2 separate regions of the Homo sapiens genome follow, and region 1 is linked to region 2. Evidence: fine-mapped expression QTL. Tissue or cell type: whole blood. Region 2 holds a variant in brackets; the other region holds the start of a gene. All regions are shown on one strand. Distances are from middle to middle.

Region 1 (2,622 bases), 240 kb before region 2:
CCAGAGGTACAGTAGGATGCTCACCTGGACTCATAGGATTCACTGTGAGTGACCACTTCTGACCTCTGTTTGCAGGGCACCACCTGACTTCTTCTCCTCACACTCTCAGTGAGAATGGAATATGAATAGTTTGACCACTGGTCAGAGCCAACAAGAGCTCTAGGTGTAGGGCAGGTTTATCCCTATTATTCGTACTTCTCCCAAGCATTAATAAGAATAATAGGGATGGTGAGTCCCTGTTAAGGTTGCCAAAAGGTTTCCAAGGAAGCAACAAGTTAGGGGGGACTGGGTCTTCCATGGTTGATGCGAAGCTATAAGGGACTTGACTGTTCCATGCACCATTTCTTGAAGAGTAGTCTATTCTAAGGTTTCTGCCCAGCACAGGAATTTTGGAGATGACCAAAACACATCGCCTGTCTTCCGGAAGCTGACCTTTCTCAACGCGGACCTCCCCGCCCTGCTAACTCTTGTTTTAAAGTTTAAACAAGTGTCAGCGATGGTCTCTCCCCGCTTTGCTCTCCACACGCCTCTCTCCTGCAGCTCTGACTTCGTTGGTTTCCCAGCCAGGGCCCCTCACTGGGCTGTGAGCCTCCTGAGGGTAGGGCGACCTCCATACCTTCTTCTGCAACACCCAGGGTGTATGGAGGGGCCTCTGTTAGCTGGAAACTTTTGGGAGCAGCAAGGGACCAGCCCCATCAGCTCCACTTCAGAGCAGTTCCAATCCAGCTGGCTTCCACATCCCTAGGGTTCTTCCCTTTTTTGTCTCCCCTATTTCTTTTTTTGCTGGAAAGAATCAGGTCCCCTCACTCTCCCCAAATACAAACTGCATTAAAAGAACCCCCGAGCTGCCCCTGGGCCCAGGGACTTCTGCTAGGCTTGGTTCCCTTTCTCCTCTCGAAACTCTTCTATCATCGAGGAGACAATCTGGCTTCTGGCTTTTCCCTCTCTTTTTCTTGGCCTCTTTCTCTTTCTTCCCCCGCCCCTTCTCCCCATGTCACAGCCAGTCCCGACGCATCCCGCCCCCGCTCTGTCGCTTTAAGCTGGTCCCGCCGCCGCGCCCCGCCCTCACCCCTCCGCGCTCCGCGGCTCCCCGCCGCTTCTCCCGCTCCTCCCTTGCTCGGCCCTCTCCTCCTCCTCCCGCTCCTCCTCCCGCTCCTCCGCGCCGCCGCCAGCCCCGCTGCGCGCTCTGCTCTTCGCAGCTCCCCGGACCCGCAGCCATGGCCGACATCAAGACGGGCATCTTCGCCAAGAACGTCCAGAAGCGACTCAACCGCGCGCAGGAAAAGGTCAGCGGCGGGCGGCCGGGGCTGGGGCCGGGGACGCCAGGCGGGGGCTTGGCCGGAGGGCACCGGCTGCAGCTGTGCGGGGCCCGAGCCTCGGGGTGCGGCGCGCTGCGGAGCGGGGCCGGGGCCAGGGACGCTGGGACGCCCTGCCCTCAGCTCGGTGACTGCCGCAAGGCGCGACCCGGGCGCCGCGGGGAGCGGGTCGGGAGGACGCAGCGCCGGGGACCCGCAGACCCTGGCCCCGGAGACGCCGGATATGTCCAGCTCCGGAGCCGGCCCCGGGTTGCCGCTCTCCTGGCCCCAAGCCAGGCAACAGAAGTAGGAGGTGCGGCAGCTTGCCCGCTGCGCCCGGAGCAGAGCGCATCTCCCTGCGCTCGCATCTCCCCGGGCCGGCTCCCAGCGCGCCCGCAGGCAGCTCGCGGGGACGCGGCCCGCAGATCGGGGCGGGAGATTGCAGCAGCCTTCCTTCTTGCGGGGGATTTTGTGGCTACTTAAGTGCAGCAGACACGAACGATTTAACAGAGAAGCCACCAAAAATCTCCCAGGACCAATAGGGTAGGATCGTGATCACACAGTGCTGTCTGGTGAGTTCTGGAGTTCAAAACAGAGATCTAGATATACACACTTTTAATTTTGGTCTATATGTTTGTGTCCCTTTTGACTCCAGTGTCCTTCTTTAGAAGGTCAAAAATAAATATGACCTGAACCTAATAGTTCCTTTCTGCATATTTCTGCACAAAGAAGGACCTTTTATTGCATTTTAAAAAATCCAGATTGCACAAATTGGGTTCTCTGTTGTTTTGCAAGTCCCTCAGTAAATTGCGCACAGTAATTTATTTTTTTTCCCCAGAGACGTGCATGAATGAAACCCAGGTCCGTAGCAAGCACAGCCCAAAGCAGGTGGAGGGGAGTTGTACCAGGCACCAGGCTTGCCTGGCTTCCCTGGTGACTGCTGTATATGACGGCCCTGAGGTCTTCATTTGTGTCCTGAGCAAAGGACATTTCCTTTATATTGTAGCTTGAGCATTGTACTTGAAAATCAACACCGGCTAATGAGCCCCATGATTGGTATCACTTGAACTGTGTTCTCTTTCACGTGGCAGTATTTTCCGTCCCTAGGATATGGGGTGTTTAGCGTTTTCCTGTTTTACTGGAAGTCAGATTTGCCATGTTGCTCAGGATGGCAATGAATTTCCCTCTTCAGACCCAATCTCAATCTCAGGCTGCCTCCCAGTTCCGGCTGACCATGAGTTGCTGAGCAGAGGGGGCACTGATCCCTTTTGTCCCCAGGCCCAGAGGCTTGGTGGCTGCCTCTAGTCCCTCCCTCCACACATGCACA
Region 2 (2,500 bases):
ATATATTCTGTAACAGGCATTTTTATTTAAACTATTACCTGTACCTTTGAGCCAGCAGAAACGTTTTTAAAACTGCTTTGTTATAAGTGTAGATGTGTGGTTCATGTTCTTCATCTCCGATTTCTGATGCTCACTCGGAGGTACTCTTCATTGTCCTTTTCTGTTTTCTGAGTTTGAAAGTTAATATTTGCAATATTAGGGCCTTCCTAACTTAAGATGTTGAACTGGATAGAATGTATTCAACAAAGAAAAAATAGTTAATCCTAATCCCATCAGATAGTAAGAGCCATTTTTGAAATATGTGTCCCGGATATATTATATAAGATCAACCTGAGATTCTTCTAACATAGTCTTTCTCACGTGAACCTCTCAAATCAAGTCTGCCAAGCTGATGTTGTCAGAATCCTGTTTAAAGAGTTGGACTCCAACCCATTTGTTCAAAACTAAAATTTCTGATTGCATTTCCTTTATTTCATTATCTCAAATTTTAAATAGTACTTAAAACTCTTCTTCTGTGTTTCTACCTTAGAAAGAAAATTCTGACTTTTTTCTATTTCACTTCTCCTTACTGGACCTAAACTATGATTTTGGCATTTTGCCTATAACAGGCTCTACAGCTATTTGGAGCATTACCATGCATATTTGATTACAAAAATGATTTCCCCTTCATTCTCGAGGGTTTTCATTGAGAAAGCTTCCTTATGTATTTTTTTTTCCTGTGAAAGTGATTTGGCTTCTGGAACCTTCCTCACAAAGATTTGAAAGTTTATACTAAAATGCACTCTTTCTAAATTTTGACTTTGTGTGATGAGGATGCTTTTCTGATATGGCTTTTCTCTCTGACCCAGGCCACTTCCATCCTGTGACCCAGATGTGCCATGTAAATCAAAAAGTGACCAAGGCACGTCTTAGTCATGGAGAGGCTTATTTAGCCAAGGTTAAGGATGCACCCAGGAAAAAGAGACACGAGTCAAAGGAGGATCTGTGACGTGTGCTTTTTCTGAAGAGAGTTTTGAGAACTTCAGTATTTAAAGGGGAAATAGCAAGCAAGAAGGAAATAATTTTTTTAAAAAGAGGGTGGTTAGGCAATGAGGCAAGTGTCACATTCTTGTGAGGCTCTGATTAGCGCTCAGTGAATCTACATTTTACATGTGAAAAGAGGGAGTGGGGACAAA[C/G]TCACTCATGCCTTCATCTCATGCTCTGTAGTTCTGCATGTTACATAAGATGAAGGAAGTGTGTGAAATTACAGCCCTGTGTTTGGGAACAAAAGGAAGGTGGTTTTCGTGTGACTCCGTTCCCAAGCTTAGCTTTCCTTTGGCATGGTAAGTTTAAGGTCCCGAGATTCAATTTTATTTCTTTCACTCCCCTAAGGCCTCATTTGTTGCTTCCAGCCAATAAAAATGGAAATAGCTTGTGGAGAGGACCACCTACACCTTAAAAGCCATGTCTTTGGAATGGTGTATGTCACTTCCATTCTAATCCCATTTGCTACACCTGACAGCAGGGAAAGCTGAGGAGTGTAGAATTGTTGGGAGCTCAGCAGAAGAGAAGTCGGAGTGTTGATGAATAGATGGCAGATTCTGCTGTACCTAAATCCTGGGAGTGCAAAGAATGTTCCAAATCTGAATAGCCTCCACAGAGGGGAGATTAGAAATAGGCTTGAGTTTGACTCCTGGCAGAGGCCCATGGAGATGCAGACGTGGCCTGCTGGTTTCTGCCCTGCAGATCATACCTGGAGCTGATGCTGATGCAGCTGTTGGAACCTTGGTGTCAGCAGCTGAGGGGGCCCCAGGAGAGGAAGCAGAGGCGGAGAAGGCCACTGTCCCTGCCGGGGAAGGAGTAAGTTTAGAGGAGGCCAAAATTGGAACTGAAACCACTGAGGGTGCAGAGAGTGCCCAACCTGAAGCAGAGGAGCTCGAAGCAACAGTGCCTCAGGTGAGTGTCCCATGTCGCAGCCAGGGGAGCTCCTGGGAAGTAGCATGGGCTGGGTGCTCTGTTGGTTGGTTCATGGTGATAACTCTTTGGATGTATAATAGGTTTGTAGCAATTTTGTGACTCCACCAAACAACATTATTATCAGATTCTCAGAAAGACTAATCCCAGCTGCTCAGTATCAGCATTGCAATGTTGCATATAGGCCCTCAGGGCCTGTGGCTGACTGGGCCTAAGCATGGAAACGGGAATGGGAAACTGGGGTGACGTGGAGAAAGGAATGAAGCAGGACAGTGAAAAGGATGAGAATGGAGCCGGGAGAAAGAGAATGTGATGAAGTGAGCACTCAGCCCAGGGAGAACTCAATAGTATTTAGATCTTATTATTCTTATTACTGTTTGGTGGTTATTATTATCATTAGAGTGCCCCAAATTCACCATCAGGCCCCTTTTACCAAGAGCCCACCACTGGGTGGCACTTTGAGAAGGGAAACAAAGGGACCAGGGCCATTAGGTCCGTGCATGAGGCGGGAGGGGGCCCTGCTCGGCACTGCCTCAGAGCAGCATTG

What was found. PIP is the estimated chance that this variant, and not a neighbour inherited with it, causes the effect.
Region 1: it holds the start of AMPH, and the variant in region 2 is fine-mapped to the expression of AMPH in whole blood (TOPMed, PIP above 0.99).

Annotation. Positions count from the first base shown.
Region 1 is chr7:38,629,947-38,632,568 of GRCh38, reverse strand. AMPH (amphiphysin) reads left to right here and starts at 1,196. Exons shown (of 21, transcript NM_001635.4): 1 at 1,196-1,286. The coding sequence starts at 1,218.
Region 2 is chr7:38,393,440-38,395,939 of GRCh38, reverse strand. AMPH (amphiphysin) reads left to right here. Exons shown (of 21, transcript NM_001635.4): 18 at 1,726-1,935. Among named protein-coding and RNA genes, the nearest start is that of TRG-AS1, 53 kb to the right of the region's middle. RefSeq lists enhancers at 702-871, 793-962, 1,235-1,404, 1,912-1,961. The variant C/G (reference allele first, on the strand shown) is at 1,176.